Linked DNA regions of Homo sapiens: region 1 is linked to region 2. The links come from fine-mapping of genetic effects on gene expression. A gene starts in region 2. The other region holds a variant in brackets. All regions are shown on one strand. Distances are between the middles of the regions.

Region 1 (9,343 bases), 65 kb after region 2:
TTTGCCCAGAACCCCACCCGCAAAGAAAACTACCGAAACACTGAATTATAAGCCTCTCTGAAATTCCGAAGGTGCGCTCAGACCATAGGGGAGAGGAAAGATCTGCTGTGGCTTCCTGGTTCAATGCCGGCTCCACACTCCTGGGTTTGAAGAATCACTTGGGATTTGAGAGCAGAGGATGCCCTAAAGAAATCTCTGAAACAACAGTCAGGGATTGTTTTATAGCCTAAAGAGTGACTCAGATCTTTAACTGGGTGTCTCTGGAGGCTTGGTTTAAACCTCAGGCCACCCACGTCAGAATCTGTCTGGAGTTTGCCCAGGGCCCTCTAACTCATACCTTCTTTGTGTCCCCGAAGGAAACCAGAAAGGGGTGCCCATTCCTACGGTGTTTGCTTTAGGATTTGCATTTGGCCTCAAAAATCCTAAAACCTTCCCATGCGCTCCCTCTGCTGGTGAATGGGCAGTATCAACCGTTAGCTAATGAACCTCCGTTTGGGGTGAGCCTCCGTCTACATTACGCCCCGTCCTGAAATTTTAGGAGGAAACTGAGTTTCTGAAAAACTGCCTTATTTTCCTGGCAACCTGAGAGCAGATTCTTGGGTTCAGTGACAACACTCTTTCACCCAACATGGCAGCCATCATTAACGAACACCACGTGTTAACTTCAGTAGCTTTTGTGGCAGTGATTTGTAAGCCTTTGTTAACCAAGGGCTGAAACTGAGTAAGCAGAGAGAGGCACCCATCTCCACAAGCACAAAATGTAAGGGCGGGGTACAGGGGTCCCCCACAAACTCAATAATCAAGGCAAATATATTTTAGTGCAATATTTTAGAAGGAAAATCATTGGAATGGGGGCCAGTTGAGTTTCTGAAATAGGTGTAGTTTTAAAAACGTGGATGATGCCTGCCCCATTTATCTGAGGTGGAAGGAAGCACGTTTTTGCTAAAGAGGTATAATGTCTTGAAGCTCTTTCATGCCTTTTGGCTGCCTGGTAAGTATTTTTGTCTACTTTCTCCATTGTACTTCGATGATACCCTCACCAGGTATTCCCAAGCACCAAGTTTATCTTCCCCTCCCTTAAAGTTCCTGAGATCAGAAAGGAGGATGTAGACAGAGTGAGCTGATGTTAGGGAGATCTCTTCAAGGGTGAGCAGTGACATTTATGTGGATCCTGGGCCTATATCACCTCGCTGGCTGTAAAGCCTTTATACTATCTAGGAAATATGTGCATGACAGCAAATACGTATGGGTTTGGTATCAAATGGGGCTCAGAGCTCTGCGAACTTGACTCTAAAGTTCCAGGCTGCTGCTAATGGTACCCAGCTGTCCACCTCTCCTTAGTTAGGTCATTAATTTTCTCTGTCTCCTAAAGGATGACGTACATGGTATACTAACCATATCCATGGTGATGTGGTGCAGTGCACAACCTGTGGAACTGTGTACCTGCTGAGGCCATACACTGAAGCTTGCACACTTTGTAGAGAAAGAGTTGTAGTAACAGAGCTACACAGATAGAAGCAGATGTCTGTCACTTGATGTGGACTTTTAAGAATCATACTTTGCTTTTATTTTATAAAGTGGAGCAAATGACAACATCACTTCAGAAGTTATAAAGACCAACAAGGCCATATTCGAAAAAAGAAGTTCCTACAAATATTAGTTTTAACCAAAAAGGAAGTTACTCAATTCATTTAAGATCATCAAAATCCTTAACAAATGGCAAAATGTCAAAAACAATGTTTTCAAAACGAATATTTGTTTCCAGATATGATTTTAACAGTTTTTAAATATTTTCTATTTTTAATTTTTCCTGCTTTATTGAGGTATAGTTGACAAATAAACATTGTATATATTTAAGATGTACAACTTCATTTCTGCATCATTTATTTGTTCTAATCTATCTCCTTCTGCCGAATGTAAAGCAGGTGTCATGTAGACAGCACATAGTCTGATCTTGGTTTTCTTTTTTTTAAAATAGATTTTTCATTCTTCTAGCTTTATTAAAGTATGATAGACAAACATTGTATATATTTAAGATGTGCAACTTCATTTCTGCTTCATTTTTTTCTGTTCTAATCTTCCTTCTCCTAAATCTAGAGCAAGAGTCTCTTGTAACAGCATAGAATTGGATCTTGGTTTTCTTTTTCTCTGTTTAATAAGACTTTTTTTTTTGCCCCCACAATGACATTTGTTTCTAATCTTCCTTTCAGAACCAGAAAATGTCTGAAGATGTTAAGATCCCCTGATTACTTTGAGAAAAACAACTAAAACAAGAACCGTGTTTATCACTGTTGTGGAGATTTCCTTTTATTCTTGACACAATTTGATGACCTAAAGTGTGTTTTCTTCTGTGTAAAGTACATGAGCTGCCTCACTAAGCATTCCCAACTCATTGAATGTGATGTGGTTATAAAGATAAGTTAGGCAGCTAGACCCTGCGTTCTAAAAAAGGATTGCTTGCAATGTTGGTTTGGCTATTCATTTGCACAAAGAGACTGTGGCTCTCTGTTGTGAGATCTTCAGCTACCTCATGGTGCAATAACACACACACGCTTAACCATGTTGATGGCACAAAGCGGTGAGCAGTAGGGAGGTAGAATATCTTGGTGGGGAGGGGATGTTATCAGCTTCTGGGAGATGAAGAATATTGTTGAGGTTCCAAAGATGCTGGACCTGTGCTAAATTCTTCAGTGATATGAAAAAATCATTGAGCATTCATTATTGCGAATGAAGTGGGGATGCATTATTTCTGACACCCACAAGCAGGGTTTGATCATCCTTTCAGCTTTGAGATATCTGCACATAAAATTATTATTACCTGAAGAAAATAAGGCTGCATTTTGAAATGTTAAGTGCAAAATGACTGATGTTAAAACCATCTGGGGGAAATCTTGGGATGCTTTTTCCTAGGAAATCATATGGTTGTGATATGTTTTGGCGCATAGGAGACAGAAATAGTGATTATCAGGCGTTGAGCCTTTTTGTAGTATTTTTAGTCTTTGATACTCTGTAAGTGCTAGTTCCTAAGGCACCAACATTGCATTCCTTGGTTTATACTTTTTCTATTCATCAGGGTAGGAAGTCTTAAATCCTTAGGCATCCAAGAAGTATACTAGCTTTTTGCTTCTCTTTTAGAAATACTTGTGGGGAGAGAAAAAAGGATGGTTTGGGCATATTGGTATAGTTTGAGTAAACTAAGGTTAATGTTCATATAACATTTAGACTTTGCCATAAATATCAGAACCAAAGATCAAGACATTCATGTACAGTCTGGAATGTATATATGGGGCCCATAAAAATTCCCAGTATGCATGTTTTATGCTCACCATTATGAATTGGGGTCTTCAAAGAGAGAAGGTTGAAAGTGGAAAGCACTTGAAAGGGCTCCCCGGTTTGTAAAATATCTTTAATCATTCACATTAGGTACCTCGGAGTTGCGGGTCTCA[A/G]ATGTGGATTCATGCATCATTTGTGCAGTTTGAAGATAGTCCATATTTCCTATTTCAGTATTAGGTCCTGCAACACTTTTCAATTCTTGTAGAAGGTTTTTTTCAGGAGTGGTGATGTCTGATGCTCAATTACTATTTTCCCTATAAGAGTTTCAGCATGAGCTTAATTAAATTCTTGTGAAAAAACCTGTGTTTTTAGTTACACACACACACACACACACACCTACTTAAATGGAATCTAAACATTTTTAGCCTTTAATCCATTCCATTTTCTAAAACTGTCATAAACTATTTTTAATCATTTTAAATAAATGTAAAAGAAAAATAACTGGATTTGATTATTGAATAGTTTTTTTCTATATTTCACAAATAAATTGTATGAAATGACTGTAGAAGTGGCCCCAAAATTATGAACCTTCGTAGCTGTGAATATGATGCCATAAATCTCTTTTAAAGCTCAAGATAGACTATGAACATATGAAATACATAGTTACCTAATCATGAGACTAAATTCACCTGGGTGACAAGGCTAACGTTCAAGCTACTTAAGATGAAAATATTTGAATCATGATTGCTTGGGGGAACCTCTCTTTGAGGGGTCATGAGGACCACCTGCTGGGCATTCTGTTTTCATGCTGAGAAGGTGAGAATTGAACAGATGAGAAAAGCCTTGATAAAACGTCATCTCCATGTAATTTAGAGAAGGATAACCTTGACTGTACAGCTGACCCTTGAACAACACAGGGCTGAACTGCACATGTCCACCTGTATGTGAGTTTGCTTCTGGCTCTGCCATTACTGAGACAGCAGGACCAACCCTCCATCTACTCAATGGGAAGATGATAAGGATGAAGACCTTTATGGTGATCCGCTTCCACTTAATAAATAGTAAATTCATTAATTTTATCTTCCTTATGATTTTCTTCATAACATTTTCTTTCCTCTAGCTTACTTTATTGTAATAATATGGTATGTAATACATATACAAAATACGTGTTCAACTGTTACCAGTAAGGCTTTCAGTCAACCAGTATGCTATGAGTAGTTAAGTTTTTGGAGAGTCAATTCATACAGCCCTTGATTTTTTTTTTTTTTTCAATTAAGTTCATTTAGATGGTCAGAAATGTCAGTTAAGCGTCATTTGAAGGTAATAACTAACCTTGAAAAACTAGTGGCTTGGGTATAGTTTTCCAAAAAGTTAGGCTGGGCGTAGTGGCTCACACCTGTAATCCCAGCACTTTGGGAGGCCTAGGTGAGGGGATTGCTTGAGCCTAGGAGTTCAAGACCAGGCTGGGCAACATAGTGAGACCCCCATCTCTAGTAACGATTTAAAAATTAGCTGGGCGTCGTAGTGCACACCTGTAGTCCCAGCTACGTGGGAGGATCACTTGAACACAGAAATTCAAGACCATAGTGAGCTGCGATAGCACCACTGCACTCCAGCTTGGGCAACAGAGTGAGACTCTCAAAGAAAGAAGGAAGGAAGGAAGGGAGGGAGGGAGAGAGGGAGGAAGGAAGGAAGAAAGGAAGGAAGGAAGGAGAGACAGAGAAGGAGGGAGGGAGGAAGGGAAGGAAGGAAGGAAGGAAGGAAGGAAGGAAGGAAATAAATTTGATTCTTTTCGCCCATAAATTTGTGATGAAGCACCAGTTTTGGAAAGCTTCCCTGCTTTGGTAGAAATAGCAGATGGCAAGATTCTGATATCTTCTACTATGAAGTTCAAAGCAGTCAGAAGTGGGCAGCTTGGTTTTTCTGAAATTTATCATTCTGACATCGGACTGAGACCTAGAGGAGATTTTTTAATGCCATCTGACAGATCTAAAATACATCTTCTAAGAGTACTATGCAAAAGTGGCAGCTGTCCTGTTTGCTTGGCTTCATTGATCCAAACCACAGGGTTGACAATTTTCCTTCACATGGATACAGTGAGGGATTCTGCAGTTATATGAGGCATTTGAGTCAAGGTGATACTTGCTTCTTGATTCCACAGATGCCACTTTTTGCCTTTGAGGACTTGCTAAAGAGTTCAGACTTTTCCTACTGTATGTTTTCTGTGCAGAAGTCATGTTGTGTGGTGAGGACCATGGATTTTATTTCATTTCTTAACCTTTCTATGCAAATGAGACCTTGAGGCTGCAGAGAACAAAATTATTGGGATGCACAAATCCAAATGGAAATAGGCTCAGTTTAGCTAAGGAGGACACTTGTGTTATCTTGTGATTCTAATGACGTTCAAGCTTTAATCACAACATTTTCGTGCAAAAGGAAAAATACATATATTATATACGTGTGTGTGTATCTCCTGTAAAATAAAAACAATATATTGTATTAAGGAGGCCTTGCAGCTGTTGTCCTTATAGCTTCAGAAATTTTATTTTTTTCAATATATTATTCTTAGGTCTGTAGTATGAAAGTTCTTTTAAAATAAACTGTACAACAATTTCACAAAATATTCAAAATAAAAAAGAGGGAGTGTTTGGATATTAATTGTCACTAAATTTAATAATTAAAATACTAAAAATTTTACAAAGGGGTGACCACACTAAAATTCATATATCCCCAAAGATCTCTTAAAAATTAGATTTTTCAGGCTGGGTGCAGTGGCTCATGTCTGTAATCCCAGCACTTTGGGAGGCCAAGATGGGGGGATCACTTGAGGCCAGAGGTTGGAGACCAGCCTGGGCAACAGAGCAAGACCCCATCTGTACAAAAATTTTGTAAAAATTAGCTGGATGCAGTGGTGTGTGCCTGTAGTTATAGCTACTTAGGAGGTTGAGGCAGGAAGATCACTTGAGCCCAGGAGTTCAAGGCTGTAGTGAGTTATGATTGTGCCACTGCATTCCAGCCTGAGGAACAGAGTGAGAGCTTGTCTCTAAAAAAGAAAAAAAATAGATATTTTGAACATTGCAAAAGCCTACAATCTTTTTAATATTGATTACTTTAGTTAAATTCTTCTCCATTTAATGTGATTTTAGAAGTAATCCTTTTACATCTGGAAAATGGAGAATAATTTATTATTTCACCCAGAGAATGATAAATCAATCAATCAAAATATAGCAATCTAGAAAGCTAATAAATAATGTTCTAATTAGGGAGACCTACTGCCAGTAGGAGTAATAGATAATAACAATACTATTTGCTGAATCATTTTATTTTAGTAGAAAAATAAGCTTTCAAAGTAATTTATTTACTTATTTATTTATTTTTGAGATGGAGGCTCACTCTGTCGCCCAGGCTGGAGTGCAGTGGCACGACCTCGGCTCACTGCAACCTCCGCCTCCCGGGTTCAGGCGATTCTCCCTGCCTCAGCCTCCTGAGCAGCTGGGATTACAGGCACCCACCATCATGCCCAGCTAATTTTTGTATTTTTAGTAGAGACGGGGTTTTGCCATGTTGGCCAGGCTGGTCTTGAACTCCTGACCTCAGGTGATCTGCCCGCCTCAGCCTCCCAAAGTGCTGGGATTACAGGCGTGAGCCACTGCGCCCAGCCTTTTAAAATAATTTACATACTTTACACATGTACACATAAAAATGGATGTTGGTTGGATGTGGTGGCTCATACCTGTAATCCCAGCACTTTGGGAGGTCGAGGTGGGTGGATCACTTGAGCACTTGAGCCTTGGAGTTTGAGACCAAGCTTGGCGACATATCGAGACTCTGTCTCTACAAAAAAATTAAAAAATTAGCTGGGCGTGGTAGTACATGCCTATGGTCCTAGCTACTTCGGAGGCTGAGACAGGAGAATTGCTTGAGCCTGGGAGGTTGAAGCAGCAGTGAGCTCTGATTGCACAATTGCACTGAAGCCCAGGTGACAGAGCAAGACCCTGTCAAAAAAAAAGGATGTCAGTGATAATGAGTTGTTTATAAAGATAGAATTAGAGTTCCAGGGATGACTGGAGAGGTATAGTGTATTATAACCCCTACCATGTGCCCGTCAGGGACTGGTACTTAAAAGTCAAAACAGTAACTGCAGAATTTGAGAGGTGTACAAAGATAGTCTCTCAAATAGTGCTCAGTTATTAGTTCAGCGATGGTCAGTTTGTGCATAGCTATGAAACTAGCTTATCACGGTAAAAAGTGTGTACGCTTCACTATCTTGTAGCATTTAGTTTCCCAGCAGGGCCATGCGACACCCAGTGGACATTTCTAAATTGTACATTCAAAAAAATGTTACCACTGGCTGCAACATTTTTTTCATTAAACATAAAAGTTGGTCTTGGGGGTGTCATTCAATGCCTTTTCTGCTTCCTTCAGAATTCTAAAGGCTTCCACCACAACTTTGATCTGAGCCCAGTTATGAACTTCATACAAAGCTGCAGGGAGGAGCCTGTGTCTGTTGAAGAAAGGCTCACAAGATCCCATGGTAAGGGGAGAGGAGAAGGGGTAATGAGGAAGAAAGGCAGCTTTCCAGGGGCCGAGTCCGGAAGACCAGACTTGTCAGAGAATGGAACTAGCTTGTCCAGTCTCAGCCCATGAGAGAGTTTCACGCCACGTGCTATTCTGGTTCTGAACATTGAGCACTTGGGTGACTTGGAATGGCCTCCATCTAAGCTGCATCTTCCCCCATAGTTCCAAATATAAATGCAATGCATTCCCTGGGTTCCTGCCAGCCATTGTCACGTTTTTGCTTCACAGCTGTCTCCTCCCTGCTCCCCGTCCTATTCATCTGCCCCTTGCTAGACAGGTATTCATGAAACATGACTGCTTGTTTATGAATAGCTGGGATGTAGACATGACATACGGAAAGAGAAGCTGCCAATTTTTCCCCAACCAAAAGTGAAAACAGTGCTTGGACCTAACAAGCATAGAATGTTTGATCCCATAGCAGAGCTGGTGGGAAGGCTGGGGGCAAAATCTGACACTGTCCACCATTGGCTGTAGACCAAAGGGAGGCTGCAGACCAAAGGGAGGCCGCAGGGAGGTGAGATCATTTCAATCGCAGGTCCCCACCCACTACGAGCACTTCCTCACCCACATCCTCTGTTCTAATCTTTTCTGTCTATCTCTTATCAACTTCCAACATATGATAACGTATCACCTTTTATTGTTTCTCTCCCGGCTCCATCCCCACTAGAATGCAACTGCTACAAAGGCATGGATTTGTCCCCAGTTTCCAGAAACATGACTGGCATGTAGTAGATGCTCATTAAAGACTTATTTATTTATTTATTGAGACAATGTCTTGCTCTGCCGCCCAGGCTGGAGCGCTGCAGTGTGATCCTGGTTCACTGCAGCCTCAAACTCCTGGGCTCCAACGATCTTGTCACCTCAGCTTCCTGTGTAGCTGGCACAACAGGCATGTCCTACCATGCCTGGCTAATTTATTTATTGTTTTTGTAGAGACGGGGTCTCACTGTGCTTCCCAGGCTGGTCTCGAACTCCTGGGCTCTAGTGATTTTCCCACCTTGGCCTCCCAAATTGCTGGGATTACAGACTTGAGCCACCACGCCTGGCCCTAAAGACTTATTAAACACACGGGAAAATGAATGAATGAAGCCCTCGTTCAGGCCACAACTTTAATAATATTAAAGAGGAGATATTTTCTTTTGGTATTCTAGCTAAAGACTTTTGGGATGAGATGGATAGGGATATTAACAAATGTGTGTGTTTTTAAAAAATATACATATTATGAAATAAAACATCTGGAAGACCTCCATAACTCAATGAACCAATATTCTACAAATGACCCATGTGTGAAGTGGCAGAATCATGAATGGATAAAAGGTTTGTCTGAAGCTTAAGATAAACCTGTGGGTTTTAAATGTGTAGACTTTAAAAATTCAGTGATAGGATTTCAGATTCCACACTACCTTATCTTTGAGAAGCTATTGATGATCAAGTTTTGTCATCAAAGGAGAACATTCACAGTTATTTGAAAAGATTACTAAAATACTTTTTC
Region 2 (9,177 bases):
TTTTATTTTGTTTTTGAGACAGAGTCTTACTCTGTCCCCCAGGCTGGAGTGCGGTGGCCTGATCTAAGCTCACTACAACCTCCACCTCTCCGGTTCAAGTGATTCTCCTGCCTCAGCCTCCCAAGTAGCTGGGATTACAGGCACATGCCACCACACCCGGCTAATTTTTGTATTTGTAGTAGAAATGTGGTTTCACCATGTTGGCCAGGCTGGTCTCAAACTCCTGACCTCAGGTGATCCATCCGCCTCGGCCTCCTAAAGTGCTGGGATCGCAGGTGTGAGCCATCATGCGTGGCCTAGAATATTCTTATTTCCAATTTTACAGCAACAGAATGTCTTCTGTCTTGTTTCTACTTTAAAAAAACAGTTTGCTAAAGCTTTCTTTGTAGTGCAGTTGTGAATTTTCAGGAGCATCCCATGAACATTGAAAAGGAGATGCATTCACGCTTTTTAAGGTTATCGAGGATGTGAAAATTAAAGTCGGCTTTGTAAATTCTGCCATGTCTGTGAGCTCCCAGCATTTGATCAGCTGAGGCTTCGAGCGGTGAAGTAGAGTGCTTTTCCCCTAACGTGCTCTGATCTGGAGCCTGCGTGTATTACCGCTGGGCACACGGCCTGCCCTGACCATACTTTAGTGAAGCAGAGGTGATAAAACTGGGTTTCCCAGGACTCCTGCAACACACAGCTTTGATGTCGGCAAACTAGAACCCGGGAGCCAAATCTGCCCACGGTGTGTTTTTGTACAGCTTTCGAGGTAAGAATTTTTTTGTATTATTGTCGTTATCGTTGTTTTGAGATGGCGTCTTACTCCGTCGCCCAGGCTGGAGTCCAGTGGCATGATCTCGGCTCACTGCAACCTCCGCCCCTGGGTTCAAGCGATTCTCCTGCCTCAGCCACCTGAGCAGCTGGGACTACAGGCATGCACCACTACGCCCGGCTACTTTTTGTATTTTCAGTAGAGACAGGGTTTCACCATGTTGGCCAGGTTGGTCTCGAACTCCTGGCCTCAAGTGATCTGCCTGCCTCTGGCTCTCAAAGTCCTGGGATTACAGACATGAGCCACGGTGCCCAGCCAAGAATGGTTTTTACATGTCTGAATAATTTTCAAAACTCCAAAGAACAATAATATTTTGTGATGCATGAAAATTATGTGACACTCAAGTTTTTATGTTCATAAAGTCCACTTGGCGCACAGACATTGGTTACATATTGCAGCAGAATCCATATGGTTTGCAAAGATAAATGCCTTTACTATCTGACCTTCTGCAGAAAAGCTTGTCTACTCTTGCCTCAAGAAGCATGTAAAATACTTACAACACTGGCACGTTAGGCATGCTGGAAATCGTAGCAATTATTTTGCACCTTCACTACATCTGAGAGGATTTCCTGAACTTAACCATTTAACCTAACTCCTCACTACCTTTTGGGAAACATTTTTTTTATTAAGGTGAAATTCACAAATCATAGAATTAACCTTTTTTTTTTTTTTGACCCGGAGTCTCTGTCACCCAGGCTGGCGTGATCTCATCTCACTGCAACCTCTGCTTACCGGGTTCAGGCAATTCTCGTGCCTCAGCCTGCCAAGTAGTTGGGATTACAGGCAGTCACCACCACATCTGGCTAATTTTTGTATTTTTAGTAGAGATGGGTTGCATCATGTTGGCCAGGCTGGTCTTGAACTCCTGACCTTAGGTGATCCACCCGCCTCAGCCTCCCAAAGTGCTGGGATGACAGGAGAATTCACCATTTTAAAGTGAACAATTCAGGTTGCTTGCTGCTTTCACAGTGTTTTGTGGCCACCACTTCTACCTAGTTCCAAGATATTTTCACTGCCCCCAAAAGAAATCCCATTAGCAGCTGTTTTTTATATTGGCTTCCTGGGGCTGTCATAAAAACATGCTTCAAACTAGGTAGGGGGCTTAAAAAACAGACAGTTAAGCTGTCACAGTTCTGGAGCATAGAGGTCTGAAATCAAGGAGCAAACAGGGTGGATTCCTCCCTCCGTCCCTCCTTCCCTCCCTCCCTCCCTCCCTCCCTCCCTCCCTCCCTCCCTCCCTTCCTGCCTTCCCTCCTTCCTTCCTTTCTCTTTCTTCCTTTCCTTACCTTTCCCCTTTCCCTCCCTCCCTCCCTCCCTTCCTTCCTTCCTTCCCTCCTTCCTTCCTTCCTTCCTTCCTTTCCTCCTCCTCCTTCTTCTTTCTTTCTTTCTTCCTTTCTTTCTTCTTTCTCTTTCTTCTCTCTCTCTCGCTCTCTCTCTCTTTCTGAGTCTCACTCTGTTTCTGTTGCCCAGTCTGTAGTGCGGTGGCACAATCTTGGCTCACTGCAACCTCTGCCTCCCGGGTTCAAGCAATTCTCCTGCCTCAGCTTCCCAAGTAGCTGGGATTACAGGCGCGCACCATCGTGCCTAGTTAATTTTTGTATTTTTAGTAGAAACGGGATTTCACCATGTTGGCCAGGCTGGTCTCGAACTACTAATCTCCAGTGATCCGCTCACCTCAGCCACCCAAAGTGCTGGGATTACAGACGTGAGCCACCGGGCCCAGCCAGCAGGGCTGATTTCTTCTGATGCTGTGAGGTAGAATGGATTCCATGCCCCTCCCATTGCGTCCAGTGGTTTGCTGCCAATATCCCTTGGCTTGTAGGTGCATCACCCCAATCTCCCACTTCATGTTCCCAAGGCCTTCTCCCTGTGTGCATGTCAGTGTCCAGATTTCTCTCTTCTTTTAAAATACCAATCATATTGCAGTATGACCTCATCTTAACTAATGATTAGGTTGGTGCAAAAGTAATTGCAGTTTTCACCTTCAAAAGTAATGGCGAGGAGCTGGGCACGCTACCTCACGCCTGTAATCTCAGCACTTCGAGAGGCCGAGGTGGGCGGATCACAAGGTCAGGAGTTCGAGACCAGCCTGGCCAACATGGTGAAACCCCGTCTCTACTAAAAATGCAAAAATTAACCAGGTGTGGTGGTGCATGCCTGTAATTCCAGCTACTCAGGAGGCTGAGGCAGAAGAATCACTTGAGCTCAGGAGGCAGAAGTTGCAGTGAGCTGACATCACGCCACTGCATTCCAGCCTGGGTGACAGAGCAAGCCTGTGTCTCAAAAAAAAAAAAAAAATTAATGGTGAAAACTGCAATTACTTTTGCACCAAAGTAATACATCTGCAAAGATCTTATCTCCAAAGAAAGTCACATTCTGAAGTACTGAAGGGTTGGGCTTCAATATATGAAGTTTGCGGGAGAAAAAATGCAACTCATAATATATCCATTCCCACGTCTTTCCAGCCCCTGGCAACCGGCAATGTGCTTTCTGTCTCTGCAGATTTGCCTGTTCTGGACATTTCAGAGAAATGGAATCCTACACAATGCGTTCTTCTGTGTCTGTTTTCTCTAACTCAGCATCCAGTTTTTGACGTCCATCCACTTTGTAGCAGATGTCACGGTGTCAGTCCTCTTTAGGGTCAGGGGACTTTGAAGGAAATATCTTTCTAAATGCATCAACTGCTTCCTGGACTCTGCCACTCAGAGCTTAGGACTGCACAAGCTAACTGCCTTAGAGCATTTCCCCCATATGCACACACACACACACATGAACACACATGCACACGCACACATGCACACGCACACACGCACACACACACAGACAGACACGTGCACACACACACACACCTGTGTGCACAGGAACTTAATCCATCCAAGTAACTTACCTTTATAAAGATGTTGCAGTCCAGGCGCGATGGCTCACACCTGTAATCCCAGCACTTTGGGAAGCCGAGGCAGGTGGATCACTTGAGGTCAAGAGTTCAAGACCAGCCTGGCCAATGCAGTGAAACCCTGTATCTACTAAAAATACAGAAATTAGCCGGGTGTGGTGTCGGGTGCCTGTAATCCTAGCTACTCGGGTGGCTGAGGCAGGAGAATCACTTGAACCTGAGAGGCGGAGGTTGTAGTGAGTTGAGATCACACCACTGCACTCCAGCCTGGGCAACAGAGTGAGACTCTGTCTCAAAAAAAAAAAAGGAAGATATTTCATAGAAGACAACTCCCAAACACCAGGTCAACAACATGAACAGACTTAACACTCCAGATGCTCAAATTTGCAGAGAGAAAAGTCCAAGGTTTATTTCTCCTTTTGGGTCTGTTTGCCATGAATCCTGCTTCTCTGGGAATTTAGAAGCTGCCCTCATAACTAAGACTGATTTTCCCCTTTCTCCTGCAGTTAATCTATTTACCAGAGGACTTCAAAGCTGTTTGCAAATGGTAACTTTTTAAGTGCTTGCCTACTGCTTCATGGTAGGTAGAGTGTAAGGGTTAACCCACGAGTTGTATATGGATAAATTAGACACACTCACAGATCTGCAGGGAAGAATATAATTAAAACCATTGTGAAAGCAGGAGTCATCATCGAACTCAGCTATCCAGTCATGTTTCTTCTCCAAGGAGATTTCAAACAGAAGATGTAAATTTTGGTAGTTACATAAAATGTCTCAGATTTAAATGAAAGACACAAAAAGCCACATATCTCCTTTTCCTGAACAACCGTCTCTGCTGAAATATTAGTTCTGCCACCTACAAAGACAACTGAAGGCTGAGGATAAAAAATGCCTCTTGGAAGTCACTGAGTTTGTTAGGTATAAAAGCCAAGACTTCAACTGAGGTCTTTGCACTGATGTGTACATTAACCCCACACTGGGTATCACTGTACAATCATGTCCTGCAGGAGGAAGATTACAGGCGGCCAGTGTCTTCTCTGGTTTCTGGGTTGGTGACTTTGAACTTGCTACAGCTCCCACACCCGCAGCGAGCAGAGTTGCCAAGCAAGTGTGCCGGCTTCCAGAAGCCTGAGATGCCCATTGGTGCTTGGGAACCACCCCAGTTTCCCCATCGTCTGTGCTGCTGCAGATTGGTTGGGGCAGCCCGGGGAGGCTGGCTCCGACACACGACTGAGTGTGCCTACACTGGTCCCACAGGTTTTCAGCTGTGGAGTTTGGGATCTGAGCTTGGAGCCCATTTGTTTCTGGCAGTTCCGCTCATATTTTCCACTTGAAGACATCGCCTCCCTTCCTTCCAAGCTGGGAGACCAGAAGTCAACAACAGGAGGGTGGAGAGGCCGGGTCTCACAATCCGCTTGGCTGGGGAGTCCACTGAGGTTCTTGCATCCTGAAGCAAACCATGGAGAGCTGGTGGGGACTTCCCTGTCTTGCGTTCCTGTGTTTTCTAATGCACGCCCGAGGTAAGAGGCATTTTGCTTTGAGGGAGATCTGCCTGGGCATGGATTTTTCTATTCTTGCTTTAAGAAACTCTTTCCAAAGGAGTTGCTATGAAGTGAATGGGGATAATTTGCCCAATGGGATTAGAAAGGAGACTAAGAGCGATGGGTGGCTGAGAGGGGAGGGAGAAGACGGGCTGCTCCCATTTGGAATCTGGGAATTAGATCCAGAAGGGCAGGATGTTAGCTGATACCATCTAGATATTCGCCATATTTTCCTGTTTTGATCCATGTGTCCCAAGCGTTTAAAAAATGACCTATTTAACTCCATGATTCAAGCATGACTGGGTGTGTGTGGAATGTCAGTCATTTCTTTCTGATTTTAAAAATTAGTTCTGACCATTTCCATACAGTAAAAGTAGAGTTGAAACTACTTCATCCCGTGGGGCAGATTACCAGAGATTCGTTTGCCGGAAGGGTTGCATTTATTCAGATTTTTAAATCTTTTCCTAAACACTGTCATTCATTCTTGCAAATTAAAACCACCTGAATTGTTCACATCAAAAACTTCGATATAAACTTGCAGGCTGGCTGTCCCAGATCCAAGATTAGATTTTTCAGTTCCGTACGAGGACCTCTTTAAGAAACTCCAATGAACTCATAAAGTACAGGATTTGAACAACGGTTGAGTAAGTTTCTTTGGTCATTTTCATGTGGCGATTTCAGAGAAGGGAACACCTGGGCGCATCTTAAGAGAGAGAAGTATTTCTGTTAGGAGTTAAAACACATCATTCAGATGTCCCTGTGGCAGCATTTCCTGTTTATCCTATTTAAAGACATGGACGTCATTAAGATTGGAGTTGGTTGTTTATGGGCGGAGGCGGTGTCGGGATGGATAGATCCTGGTGGACATAGTCTAGGATCTGCAGTGAGAATTTTTTATTATTCTGTGCTGTCTTCAGATCTCACCTAGTAAGTGGACAATGTGGCCATGCATTCATTAGCTTCTGTTTACAGGGAGATGTTCAACAGTAAACCCACCTCCCCAGAAAAGTACTTCCAGGAGTTTGTATCATTCACAGTAAGAGCCAAAGGTTAACCATATCCCCTTGGGCAAATCAACTTCTACAAAGTGCGGATACAGACAGTTCCCAACTTACCATGGTTTGACATGATGGTTCAATTTAAGATTTTTCAACTTTACAACGGTGTAAAATTGGTATGCATTCAGTACAAACGAAAACTGTACTTTGAGTACCCATACAACTTTTCTTTTTTTTTTTTGAGATGTCGTGTCGTTTCATTCTGTTGCCCAGGCTGGAGTGCAGTGACACAATCTGAGCTCACTGCAACCTCCACCTCCTACGTTCAAGCAATTCTCCTGCCTCAGCATCTCAAGTAGCTGGGATTATAGGTGCCCACCACCACACCCAGCTAATTTTTCTATTTTTAGTAGAGACTGGGTTTCACCATGTTGGCCAGGCTGGTCTTGAATCTTGACCTCTGGTGATCCACCGGCCTCCCAAAGTGCTGGGATTATAAATGTGAGCCACCATGCCCGGCCCCATACAGCCATTCTGTTTTTCACTTTCAGTACAATGTTCAATAAATTATGTGAGGTATGCAACACCTCATTATAAAGTTGACTGTGTGCTAGATGATTTGTCCATCCGTTGGCTGATGAAAAGTGTTCTGAGCACTCTGAAGGCAGGTAAGGCTAAGCTATGGCGTTTGGTAGGGTAGTTGTATTAAATGCACTTACAACATAAAATATTTTCTTTTTTTTAATGTGTTTTAATTTTTTTGAGGGAGGGGCCCACTGTGTCACCTAGACTGGAGTGCGGTGGTTCCATCATAGCTCACTGCAGTCTTCACCCCAGGGGTTCGAACAAACCTCCCACCTCAGCCTCCAGAGTAGCTGGGACTACAGGCATTTGCCGCTGTGCCTGACTAGTTTTTAAAACTTTTTGTAGAGACGGGATCTCACTATGTTGTCCAGGCTGGACTTGAACATCTCAGCTCAAACGATCCTCCTGCCTTGGCCTCCCCAAATCTTGAGATTACAGGCATCAGCCACCATACCCTGTCCTGCGCTAAATTCTTTGACTGACGGCAGCACTTCCTATGCACTAGGCATGGATTAACTTAGTTGATTGTCCCTCAGCCCTATGACGGGAGTGTCGTGCCTGATGTCATTTTACAGATGGTGTATTAGTCAGGGTTCTCTAGAGGGACAGAACTAATGCAATAGAAATATATATAGAGAGAGGAGTTTATTAAGTATTAACTCATATGATCACAAGGTCCCACAACAGGCCGTCTGCAGGCTGAGGAGCAAGGAGAGCCAGTCCAGGTTCCAAAACTGAAGAACTTGGAGTCTGATGTTCCAGCATCCACCATGGGAGAAAGATGTAGGCCAGAAGACTAGGCCAGTGTCTCTTTTCACATTTTTCTGCCTGCTTATATTCTAGCCACAGCGGCAGCTGATTAGATGGTGCCCACCCAAATTGAGGGTGGGTCCGCCCCTTCCAGTCCACTGACTCAAATGTTAATCTCCTTTGGCAACACCCTCACAGACACACCCAGGATCAATACTTTGTATCCTTCAATCCAATCAAGTTGACATTCAGTATTAACCGTCACAGATATGGGTAAACTGAGGCACTGAGGATTTGGACGGGGGCAGCCGGCAGCGGAATCTGAGCTGTCCTGTAGCTCTGTCTGGGAAGACTCCAGTGAGCATCCCGCTCTATCCCAAGCCTTGTCTTCTGAAAATCAGAATCATCCCTCCTCCAAGTGTTACAGGAAAGGGGTCCGGATCCAGACGCCAAGACGGGGTTCTTGGATCTCGCTCCATAAAGAATTCAGGGCTAGTCTGTAAACTGAAAACAAGTTTATTAGGAAAGTAAAGGAATAAAAGAATGGCTATTCCGCAGAGCAGCTCTTAGAGCTACTGCTTGCCCATTTTTATGGTTATTTCTTAGTGATATGCTAAGCAAGGCTTGGATTATTCATGCCTCCCCTTTTTAGACCATGCAGAGTTCCTGACATTGCCGTGGTATTTGTAATTGTCATGGTGCTGGTGGGAGGGTAACACTGAGGACAACCAGAGGCCACTCTCATCACCATCTGGGTTTTGGTGGGTTCTGGCCGGCTTCTTTACTACCACCTGTTTTATCAGCTAGGTCTTTATGACCTGTATCTTGTGCAGACCTTCAGTCTCATCCTGTGACTCAGAATGCCTTAATCATCTGGGAATGCAGCCCAGTAGGTTTCAGCCTTCTATTGCCCAGCCCCTATTCAAGATGGAGTCGCTCTGGTTCCAGTGCCTCTGACACAAGTAGCGCCCCTTAGGGAGGTTACAGGAGGGACTGGAAGGAAAGTGAGGTCTGGATCAGGGCCCTTCTGTGTAAATAAGATGATGTACATGCAGCAGCTGGGTATGTCCTGGGTAAAAATTAGTTAAATGCACAGACGACCCTGTTTCATCCCCAGCCATCACCAGCTGGAAATGGGGCACATTCCCAAGATCCCAAAAACATTCTGCAAGGCTGGTGCGATGATTGCTATGAAGTACTTAAGAAAACAGATTATTGTTCAGGATCAATAGCTAATGCATGTGGGGCTTAATGCCTCTGTGACGGGTTGATGGGTGCAGCAAACCACCATGGCACATGTTTACCTATGTAACAAACCTGCACGTCCTGCACACGTATCCCGGAACTTAAAATAAAATAAAGAAGACAGAATATTGTTAATGGTTAATATGCTGTAAATCATTATGATGATTACTAAATTATCAATACAAAAGAAGATAATAGCAAGACGGCCATATTCCTAATAGAGGTTGACATTTTAGCAGCCCTACATTTCCACTGTATTTAATTAGTATTTGCCGTCCAATCCAGAGGGGCATGAAGGAGCACGAGACAAAATCAGGTCTTCTAACAGCTGAGAAGAAGCTGAGAACC

Which allele goes with the higher level. Alleles are on the strand shown, and positions count from the first base shown. SD is a standard deviation of normalised expression in the study named.
As copies of G replace A in region 1, the expression in liver of the gene that starts at base 4,935 in region 2 goes up (moderate effect, 0.57 SD a copy in GTEx).

Evidence for each region.
Region 1: its variant is fine-mapped to the expression of XG in liver (GTEx, PIP above 0.99).

Annotation. Positions count from the first base shown.
Region 1 is chrX:2,812,154-2,821,496 of GRCh38, forward strand. It overlaps XG (Xg glycoprotein (Xg blood group)), which reads left to right. Exons shown (of 11, transcript NM_001141919.2): 11 at 2,211-4,347. The coding sequence ends at 2,227. Among named protein-coding and RNA genes, the nearest start is that of GYG2, 12 kb to the right of the region's middle. The variant A/G (reference allele first, on the strand shown) is at 3,447.
Region 2 is chrX:2,747,106-2,756,282 of GRCh38, forward strand. It overlaps XG (Xg glycoprotein (Xg blood group)), which reads left to right and starts at 4,935. Exons shown (of 11, transcript NM_001141919.2): 1 at 4,935-5,230. The coding sequence starts at 5,170.